Homo sapiens: one gene and its partners. The protein of the gene in region 2 purifies or fractionates together with the protein of the main gene of each other region. This does not show direct contact. Each region holds a gene or a part of one and is shown on either strand. Other genes may lie near its edges.

The links.
Region 1: the proteins of ACADM (region 2) and SCML2 fractionate together in Homo sapiens (co-fractionation; one large-scale study listed by BioGRID). This does not show direct contact.
Region 3: the proteins of ACADM (region 2) and ACAA2 fractionate together in Homo sapiens (co-fractionation; one large-scale study listed by BioGRID). This does not show direct contact.

Annotation. Positions count from the first base shown.
Region 1 is NC_000023.11:18,348,135-18,351,789, reverse strand, and holds part of SCML2 (sex comb on midleg-like protein 2), read left to right. Parts: intron 1-3,655. UniProt on the Homo sapiens protein: Putative Polycomb group (PcG) protein. PcG proteins act by forming multiprotein complexes, which are required to maintain the transcriptionally repressive state of homeotic genes throughout development.
Region 2 is NC_000001.11:75,734,709-75,738,363, forward strand, and holds part of ACADM (medium-chain specific acyl-CoA dehydrogenase, mitochondrial isoform a precursor), read left to right. Parts: intron 1-82; coding exon 83-163; intron 164-3,655. UniProt on the Homo sapiens protein: Medium-chain specific acyl-CoA dehydrogenase is one of the acyl-CoA dehydrogenases that catalyze the first step of mitochondrial fatty acid beta-oxidation, an aerobic process breaking down fatty acids into acetyl-CoA and allowing the production of energy from fats.
Region 3 is NC_000018.10:49,799,919-49,803,573, forward strand, and holds part of ACAA2 (3-ketoacyl-CoA thiolase, mitochondrial), read right to left. Parts: intron 2,936-3,655; coding exon 2,769-2,935; intron 1-2,768. UniProt on the Homo sapiens protein: In the production of energy from fats, this is one of the enzymes that catalyzes the last step of the mitochondrial beta-oxidation pathway, an aerobic process breaking down fatty acids into acetyl-CoA.

The DNA of each region.
Region 1 (3,655 bases), on a different chromosome or scaffold from region 2:
CTTTTGGGGTTAATAGCAATGACTTTTGTAACTCTAGTAACTGGAACACGGGTGGATACAGCAGTATCCTCTGCTGTTTGCCTTATTAGTCACCTCTAGTCTTTTTTTTTTTTTTGCCTGGTTATTCTGTCTGCCATTTTTCTCCCTCTATTCTCATTCCACTTGTGAATGGAAATCGGAGGTCCTCTCTATTAGCTACCCTCTCGGGGTGGGGAGGGTAGGTCTCACTGTCTCCTCATAGTCATATTCCTGATTTTTAGGATATACAAGAACAAAGTGGGCTCTGCCAGCTATCAGCCTTAGAGCTATGAGCTGTGGTGCAAAGATTAGTCTGTCATTGCCAGAAGGTGTTTTGTAGTTTGCAGTGGGCAAATCAAGCATCCCTAATAATTTTAGAACCATTATTAATGTCTGAGAATTACTACATAATACCTTAGAATTTGAACTGATTGTTGATTCCAGGAACTAAAAACCTGGACATTTTGAAAATGGCAAATGTTGGTGATGTTTTTTTTTTTTTGAGATGGGCTCTCGCTGTGTTGCCCAGGCTGTAGTGCAGTGGCGTGATCTCAGCCCACTGCAGCTTCTGCTTCCTGCGTTCAAGCAATTTTCCCACCTCAGCCTCCTGAGTAGTTAGGATTACAGGGGTGTGCCACCATGCCCAGCTAATTTTTGCATTTTTAGTAGAGACGGGGTTTCACCTAGTTGGCCAGGCTGGTCTCAAAACTCCTGACCTCAGGTGATCCTCCTGCCTTGGCCTCCCAAAGTGCTGGGATTACAGGTGTGAGCCACCACGCCCGGCCGTGTTGGTAATTTTGAAGGAAGAGTTTATACCCTTCCCTGGCTTTGGGGCTTAATATTCAGGATCTCTTTGTCTTGGGGAAATAGATAAAAGAAACCACTGGCGTTTATCTTAGATTAAAATGGCATAATTTATACCATTATATAAATACTGGTATAATTTAGTGGTAAGTACATTTTTTAGACTCTAAGTACCTTAGGCTTTGGTTACCATTTATAAAAAGAGTTTGTGGTAGTTCTTTTTTTGATACGGAGTCTTGCTCTGTTACCCAGGCTGGAGTGCAGGTGCAATCTCGGCTCATTGCAACCTCTGCCTCCTGGCTTCAAGCAATTCTCCTGCCTCAGCCTTCCCAGTTGCTGGGACTACAGGCATGTACCGCCACACCCAGCTAATTTTTTTTTTTTTTTTTTCCGAGATGGAGTCTCGTTTTGTCACCCAGGCTGGAGTAGAGTGGCACGATCTCAGCTCACTGCAACCTCTGCCTCCCAGGTTCAAGTGATTCTCCTGCCTCAGCCTCCCAAGTAGCTGGGACTACAGGCGTGCGCCACCGAGCCTGGCTAATTTTTGTATTTTTAGTAGAGATGGGGTTTTACCATGTTGGCCAGGCTGGTCTCAAACTCCTGACCTCAGGTAATCCATCCACTTCTGCTGCCTCTCCAAGTGCTGGGATTACAGGCATGAGCCACCGAATCTGGCCTTTGTTTTTTTTGAGAGTCTTGCTCTGTCTGTTGCCCAGGCTGGAGTGCGGTGGTGTGATCTTGGCTCACTACAGCCTCTGCCTCCTGGGTTCAAGCAATTCTTGTGCCTCAGCCCCTGAGTAGCTGGGATTACAGGCGTGCATCACCATGCCCACTAATTTTTGTATTTTTCATAATTTTTGTATTTTTAGTAGAGATGGGGTTTCACCATGTTGGCCAGGCTGTTCTCGAATTCCTGGCCTCAAGTGATCCTCCTGCCTTGGCTTCCTGAAGTTCTGGGATTACAGGCGTGAGCCACCTCGCCCTGCCAATGGTGGTTCTTAAAAATAACTTGAAAAAATTTTAGAAGCTATCAAGATTTGAAATGTGTATGTGTTCTTTGGTTTTCATGAGAAAGGCGATTTTGTTTATTTTGTCATTATGTTGTCTATTTCTAGGGTTACCTTGGCAACCTTAGAAATAATACTGGGTTTTTTTTTGTTTGTTTTTTTTTGAGACGGAGTCTCGCTCTGTTGCCCAGGCTGTAGTGCAGTGGCACAATCCTGGCTCACTGCAACCCCCACCTCCGAGGTTCAAGTGATTCTCTTGCCTCAGCCTCCTGGGGAGCTGGGATTACAGGCGTGCGCAACCATGCCCAGCTAATTTTTTAAAAAATAATTTTAGTAGGGACGGGGTTTCACCATGTTGTTCAGGCTGGTCTCAAACTTCTAACCTCAAGTGATCCACCTGCCTTGGCCTCCCAAAGTGCTGGGATTACAGGCGTGAGCCACCACGCCCAGCCTGGAGAGGTGTTAACATAAGCAATGGAGATATCTTATTGTGTGAAAAGTGAAATATTTGAGGATCCTGTAGCAGTGAATATGATGGTGCTGTTCATCTTAATATCATGATCATTTGACCTAGACTACATGAATTCCTTATTTGAAGAGTTAAAACTTATAGAATAAGCTGTGAGTAAAGACCTGGGAAACTGAAGATAGCATTTGATTACCTACTACTTGTGACCTGTGTTTATGGCTATGGCTCTGCCTCTTCCTAAGTTTATAGGAGCAAATTGTTTTAAGAGGGGAAAGAGAGTGCCCACTTTTAGTGGTAACGTACTGTTGTAAACTTCAGAAGGGACAGATATATTACAATTCTAGGGCATACCTTGAAGATGCTTTCATTTCTCAGAGAAAAGTTTGCGGGGCTCTCTTTGGTTGTGTTTAGAATACACATTTGATTTTTCGCAACCTCTGTTTCTCATAAAGATTAACTGGTGGCGAATTATAGACAAACAGCTCCATTTGTTTGGTATGTACCTTATAGCCTTGACATAGTTTTTTAAGTGTATTGACAAAGTGCTTGTTTTTTTTGGTTAACATTTGGCCACTTTTCCTACCTTTCATCAGTTTTAGCTGGTTTAAGGTTTGATTATATATTTATTTTTAAATGCTGAATCAAATGTGTTTCTTCTTTTCAGTTCTCTTCCTCTTTGAATACATTTGGAAACATGTGCCCTTTGCTATGAACTGTTGCTTTTTTTTCTTTGGAAATATTTTTTAAAATGTTATTTGGAGTATTTTTCTCTTTAATGTTATTTGAAAAGCAATATAGTCAGTATTAATTTTTAACTAACTTGATAGAGTTTCATAAATCTGTTCAAATGAAACACGGCATCTTTGGTCATTAAAAGAATTAATATATAGTAGGCAATAGTAAGTATATTTAGATATTGTTTGGTTTTAGATTACTTTAGAGACTCTGATTTGAGATTTTTTTTGTGTTGAAATTTGAGAAGTTGTAGAAATATTTGAATGGGTAATTTGCTGACACCTGCCTCATGTTTGAGGTATTTTCAAGGATGTTTAGTTTTCTGGTTTCTTCAGATTGTGGTTTATTGCATGCTTTTCTGCAGTCTGTTGTCTAGTGGGGATTGTTGTTGTCATCATTTCCATTATTTCTTGTAGGGCCGGTGTTAGAAACCATAAATCTAGACTGCAGTGATAATAGGAACAGCCTGTAACCAGATCCAGTTCTTTTGTCAAAAAGTTGCACCATTAGCTGCCTGTAGTATATTGACATGCCCTGCCATTAACTCAAGTCCTTCACAAAAGTCAGTGGGTAGCAGGTCTTTGGGCAGTTAGCCTGTAGCTGTGCTTTAAAACCTCAGGAA
Region 2 (3,655 bases):
TTTCATTTTGAATTATAGCATCTCTGAATTTACATATCCAATAAAAATGACTTGATTTTTTAATGTCAATTTTCTTCGGTAGCAAATGCCTATTATTATTGCTGGAAATGATCAACAAAAGAAGAAGTATTTGGGGAGAATGACTGAGGAGCCATTGATGTGTGTGAGTATGTGTAACTGCCGCTTTATTTCACACTTAAGAAGGGAACAAAGGTGCTATTTCTCCTTTTCAGTCTATATGTATATATTGGGATATTTAGCATTGAAACAAAACTTAGCAACATATTATTACAATGATGTGTCAAGGATGCCAAGAAAGTATCATAATAGGCCGAGGGCAATGGCTCGCACCTGTAATCCCAGCACTTTGGGAGGCGGAGGCGGGCAGATTACTTGAGGTTAGGAGTTCACAGCCTGGCTAACGTGGTGAAACCCCATCTCTACTGAAAATACAAAAATTAACCAGGCGTGATGGCGCCTGCCTATAATCCCAGCTGCTCAGGAGGCTGAGGCATAAGAATCGCTTGAACCCGAAAAGTGGAAGATGCAGTGAGCAGAGATCACACCACTGCACTGCTACCTGGGCGACAGAGTGAGTGAGACCCTGTCTCAAAAAAAAAAAAAAAAAAAAGGTGTCATCATAATTTTGTTGCTTATTTCCAGGAGAAGAGAGATCTACTTGTGATGTTTTTGGGATGTCAAAAAGTGTCATAATAATCCTCTTACTTCAGGAGAGAGAGCTCTATTTAGTGGAGCATTCTACACTTTAAGAACTGAGTCATTGTGTCAGGAAGTTCAGATTGAATGTAGGGCAATGTGTGTTTGAACTAGTAGTGTTTTGAATTAGTAAAAAATTAATGTTGGCTGGTCGTGGTGGCTCACGCCTGTAATCCCAGCACTTTGAGAGTCTGAGGCAGGTGGATCACCTGAGGTTAGGAGTTCGAGACCAGCCTAGCCAAAATGGAGAAACCCCATCTCTACTAAAAATACAAAAATTAGCTGGATGTGGTGGCGCTTGCCAGCTACTTGGGAGGCTGAGGCATGAGAATCTCTTGAACCTGGGAGGCAGAGGTTGCTGAGTAAAGATGGCGGCACTGCACTCCAGCCTGGGCAACAGAGTGAGACTCTGTCTCAAAAAAAAAAAAAAGCAATTAATGTGGGCTGGGCATAGTGGCTCACACCTGTAATGTCAGCACTTTGAGAGGCTAAGGCAGGAGAACTGCTTGAGCCCGGGAGTTCAAGACCAGCCTGGGTAACACAGTGAGACCCTGTCTCTAAATAAATAAATAAATGAATAAATAAATAAAAATTAATGTGAACCTGTAACTGAAGAAATAGCAACTTATTTGTTGAATGACTGAATGACTTGGGAAGAATAGTTGTAGAGTTTATTTAAACCTCTGAAAGCAACTCAACAAATTTTTAAATTAGATTTTTTTAACAAGATAAATACACACACAGACATACACACACACACACACACACACACACACACACGCTCTATTCTGAAACTGTTGTTTACCTAAGGATTTTTACTTCTTGTTTACTCAAACATATTTCAATCTAAGGTGTGGTTGTTATACTGAAATACAGTAGATGTATTAGTTTTGAGCTAATGATGAGAATTCATCTTAAAGAACAGAAAATAATATTTGAAAATAAATGTTTTTTATTTCAGATACCTAAAATTTCAAGCAAACTGTTTAATAAAGGAATTTGTACATATTTGCTAGGAAATTTGCAATTTTTTTTAACAATTGAGAGGTTAGCTAAACATTCTCACTATTGTCTATAAGAACTGTGTGAAACGTCTAGATTGTTCTCCTGTAGCATATACAGTCAGCTCTCCATATCCATGAGGGAATAGTTTAGGACAGGTTGCCCTCCATATCAAAATTTTTGGTTGCCAAGTCTGTTATACAAAATGTACAGTTAGCCCTTTGTATCTGTGGGTTTTGCTCCACAGTTGGTTAAATTCCAAAATTCGTGGATGCCAAAGGCAAACTTTTAAAAAATTAAAATTTTATAACTTTTCTAATTATAAAATACTGAGTATAGAAAATTTAGAAATGTTTTAAGTAGAACAAAAATATCTGTAATCCCTCAGATATGGAGTTAATTAGTATTACTTCCTTATTGTAGTGCCTACCACATTTTTAAATATGTAATTGTGTTTTTAACAGTTAGCCCCCATTATATACATGTAGTTTTATGTACATCTTTATTTAACAACATGAACATTTTCTTATGCCTTCCTTCTTTTTACATGCTGTAACAATACTGCATAATTTGCTATCTAATGGATATGCTATAAATTGTTTCACTTTTCTGTACTGTTGAATGTTTAAACTCCTTGGGTTTTTACTTTGGAAAATAATGTTATGGTAAAAAATAATACAGAAAAAAAATAAATAAAAATGATCAAATAAGAAGCCAAGAACAGGCCAGGCATGGTGGCTCATGCCTGTAATCTTAACACTTTGGGAAGCCAAGGCAGGAGGATCGCTTGAGGCCAGGAGTTCAAGACCAGCCTGGACAACGTTGAGAGACTGCCACCACACACACACACAAATATATATATATATATATATATATATATATATATATATATATATATATGAAACCAAAAAGAAGAAAAGAAGACAAAAACAACTCTGAGGAACCAGTAGTGACAAGCCATTTTGTATAGAAAAAAACAGGCTCATTTACTTCACAGGCTCTAAAAACTTCACTGTATTATGAAACAGACAGATGTCTAATAGCATATTTCAGGGAAAAAAATACCTTAAAGGTGGTTAAAACAAAATTTTGGTACTTAAAAGGGGCATCTTTTATGGACAACTCCTTAATTTGTCATGATGCTGAATACATCAAATCTCCAGGTAGCAGAGTAATCTAGTTCAGTTAACTTGAGTGACACCTGAATCCCCTCTACAGAATCCCTGTCAAAAGACCATCTGGCTGACATGTTTTTATACCTCAGGTGCCTGGGAATCAACACCTTCTGAAACAGCATCATTTGCGAGCATCTGTTATCATTAGAAAAATATTTTGGATTACATAATGCTTAAGCACAGAACCTGTCATTTTTTTTTTTATAATTTTACCAGTTCATACTGTAATAGGTGTTCAATAAATGTTAGAGTGATTTCACTGTACTTTTCTTTGGCTATATTGCCCTTCAGATGTTTGAGTATAGTTATATTTATTTATTTATTTATTTTTTGAGACGGAGTCTCGCTCTGTTGCCCAGGTCGGAGTGCAGTGGTGTGATCTTGGCCCACTGCAACCTCTGCCTCCCAGGTTCAAGCGATTCTCCTGCCTCAGCCTCCCAAGCAGCTGGGACTACAGGTGCGTGCCACCACGCCTGCCTAATTTTTTGTATGTTTAGTAGAGACAAGATTTCACTGTGTTAGCCAGGATGGTCTCTATCTCCTGACCTCATGATCTGCCCACCTTGGCCTCCCAATGTGCTGGAATTACAGGTGTGAGCCACCATGCCCAGCCAAGTATTGTTATTATTTTTTTTTTCTGAAATGGAGTCTCGCTCTGTTGCCTAGGCTGGAGTGCAGTGGCACCATCTCGGCTCACTGCAACCTCCACCTCCCAGGTTCAAGCAATTCTTCCTCAGCCTCCCAAGTAGCTGGGATTACAG
Region 3 (3,655 bases), on a different chromosome or scaffold from region 2:
AAGTGAGGAGACCCTCTGCCCGGCAACCGCCCCGTCTAAGTGAGGAGCCCCTCCGCCCGGCAGCCACCCCATCTGAGAAGTGAGGAGCCCCTCCGCCTGGCAGCCACCCTGTCTGGGAAGTGAGGAGCGTCTCCGCCCGGCAACCACGCCATCCGGGAGGGAGGTGGGGGTCAGCCCCCACCAGGCCAGCCGCCCCGTCCGGGAGGGAGGTGGGGGTCAGCCCCCGGCCGGCCAGCCACCCCGTCTGGGAGGGAGGTGGGGGGTCAGCCCCCCGCCCGGCCAGCCGCCCCGTCCGGGAGGTGGGGGGGTCAGCCCCCCGCCCGGCCAGCCGCCCCGTCCGGGAGGGAGGGAGGTGGGGGGGTCAGCCCCCCGCCCGGCCAGCCGCCCCGTCCGGGAGGTGAGGGGCGCCTCTGCCCGGCTGCCCCTACTGGGAAGTGAGGAGCCCCTCTGCCCGGCCACCACCCCGTCTGGGAGGTGTGCCCAGCAGCTCATGGAGAACGGGCCATGATGACCGTGGCGGTTTTGTGGAGTAGAAAGGGGGGAAAGGTGGGGAAGGGATTGAGAAATCGGATGGTTGCCGTGTCTGTGTGGAAAGAAGTAGACATGGGAGACTTTTCATTTTGTTTTGTACTAAGAAAAATTCTTCTGCCTTGGGATCCTGTTGATCTGTGACCTTACCCCCAACCCCGTGCTCTCTGAAACATGTGCTGTGTCCACTCAAGGTTAAATGGATTAAGGGCGGTGCAAGATGTGCTTTGTTAAACAGATGCTTGAAAGGCAGCATGCTTGTTAAGAGTCATCACCACTCCCTAATCTCAAGTACCCAGGGACACAAACACTGCAGAAGGCCGCAGGGTCCTCTGCCTAGGAAAACCAGAGACCTTTGTTCACTTGTTTGTCTGCTGACCTTCCCTCCACTATTGTCCTGTGGGCCAAATCCCCCTCTGCGAGAAACACCCAAGAATGATCAATAAAAAAAAAAAAAAAAAAATCCACAGCTATCATCATATGTAAAGTTGAAAGGCCAGATGCTTTCCCCCTATAATCAGGAATAAGACAAAGATATCCATTTCTTATAACTTCTATTCAACATTGGAGATTCTAGCCAGGGCAATTAGGGAAGAAAAAGAAATAAAAAGAATCCACATTGGATTTCATTGTTTCCTATGAAATAAGTAAAACTCATTTATTCCAAGTGATATTTAATAATATAAAACTCAATTAGAAAAGCAGCTTTGTGGTATTTGTCAAATGTTATTCGAAGCATATTCTGTTCTCTCTTAACCATAAAGGCCTAACCCCAAATATTTATGTTAAGCACTTAACATCCTTACAAGAAAACTCTATCTTGGCCTGACAGAAAACTTAACACAAGAAAAACTGTCTTTAGGAACAGAGGCACAAACACAATGAAACTGATACTATTTATAGTGACTTTGTGTTATAAAGTTTGAGAGAATACATGCTGGGAAAAAAATATTTTTCCTTCAAAATTCTAGAAAACGCAAAAAACGGAAGTATCCAATTTCTATTCAATCTGTTCTAATGCCTTCTTAGGTCAGAGGTAAAAGTTACAAAATAAAATAAAAAGAACAAAAGACAATATTGAGAATTCTTTATGAAAATATTTTAGGTTCAACAGACATAACTGCCAAAGGAAAAAAGTCACTGCTTTTTCTGGATGTGAAGATACACAACGGCAAGATGAACAGCATCAAGTTCAAATGCAAGGCCTAGTGACTTCTGTGTCCATTGTCATTCTCTTTCCTTTAGCAATGATCACATCATTGACATCTTTAAATATATGTATCATATATATATTTGTGTGTGTATATATGATACATAAGATATATCACAGAAACTGATCATATATATATATATATATATATATATATATCTTATCTTTTTCATTAGATTATTACCTCCTTTTGGTCCACCTTGGGTGCCATAGCACCTATAATAGCCTCTAACTAGGTATCCAACAAATGTTTGTATACTTTAAAGGAATTCTGAATTTTCAATTACCTGCATATGAATGATTGATTTTGTACATCACACATAGCAAGACAGAGGGTAAGGAAGCATCTTATTTCTTACAACAAACACTGATCAAGCTCCTACAATGTGTAAGAAAATTAGGGGAGGTGTGCTGTAATGGCTTGGGTTTACTAAGGTGGCATATAGAGAAGATCAATTAACTTCAAGTAAGCCAAGGAAGTCAATCTGCTATTTAGGAAGCACTGAAATGCATCCCAAGTCAGACATACAGTTTCTAGAACATATGATGCTTTGAATTATGCATGCTGTTGATTCTGGAGTCACAGAATTACTCAAATTACAAACGTATAAAGTCTGTAACTATTGGCTGGGAGTGGTGGCTCACGCCTGTCATCCCAGCACTTTGGGGGGCCGAGACAGGAGAATCACGAGGTCAAGAGATCGAGACCATCCTGGCCAATGTGGTAAAACCCTGTCTCTATTAAAAACACAAAAATTAGCTGGGCTTGGTGGCACACGCCTGTAATCCCAGCTACTCGGGAGGCTGAGGCAGGAGAATTGCTTGAACCCGGGAGGCGGAAGTTGCAGCGAGCCAAGATCGCACCACCATACTCCAGCCTGGCGGCAGAGCGAGACTCCATCTCAAAAAAAAAAAAAAAAAGTCTATAACTATTATTAACTTGTTTACCATTATGATATGTTAAAGGAATTATTTTTAGAAACTGATCAAAGAAGCAATAGGAGTGAACACCTTCCTTTACTCTACTAACCTGCAGGACATTGCCCATAATCACACTGTCAACTGTTTCAGGTGAGACTTTGCCAGCAGACAAGGCAGCCTTGGCAGCAAATTCAGACAAGTCAGTAGCAGTGAAGTCTTTCAGAAGGCCTCCGTAAGCTCCAAAGGGCGTTCGCTTAGCAGCAACTACAAACACACCTATTGCAACAAGAAGAGATTTGTAAGCCATCACAGGTTAGTAAATACCTCTAAATGCTTCGAATAATCTCACTGTGAAACCTTACACAATTTAAAATTAGATAATGGAAATTTCTGTTAGGCAATAATACCTAGAACAAGTCATACCCATGGAAGCAGAGTCTTAAGGACTACCAGTTTGACAGTTTGATCTTTACCTACATGCAGGTACCAAGAACTGCACTGCATGCTGTTAAGGAAGAAGACCACCACTTCTCCTGCGCACCCCGCCCCCCTTGCCTAGTTTATAAAACAGGAGGAAAAGAAAAAAGCAAAAAGTTAAAAAGAAACAGAAGTAAGATAAATAGCCAGATGGCCTGGTGCCACCACCCGGCCCTGGTAGTTAAAATAATAATAATAATAATAATAATAATAATAATAATAATAATATCAATCCCTGACCTAAACTACTTGTGTTATCTGTAATTTCCAGACATTGTATGAAAAAGCATTGCAAAACTTTCTGCTCTGTAAGCTAATGCATGTAGCCCCCAGTCACGTTCCCCACACTTGCTTGATCTATCACCATCCTTTCAGGTGGACCCCTTAGAGTTGTAAGCCCTTAAAAGGGCCAAGAATTTCTTTTTGAGGGAGCTCGGCTCTTAAGACGCAAGTTGGTGGATGCTCCAAGCCAAATAAAGCCTCTTCCTTCTTTAATCCAGTGTCTGAGGAGTTTTGACT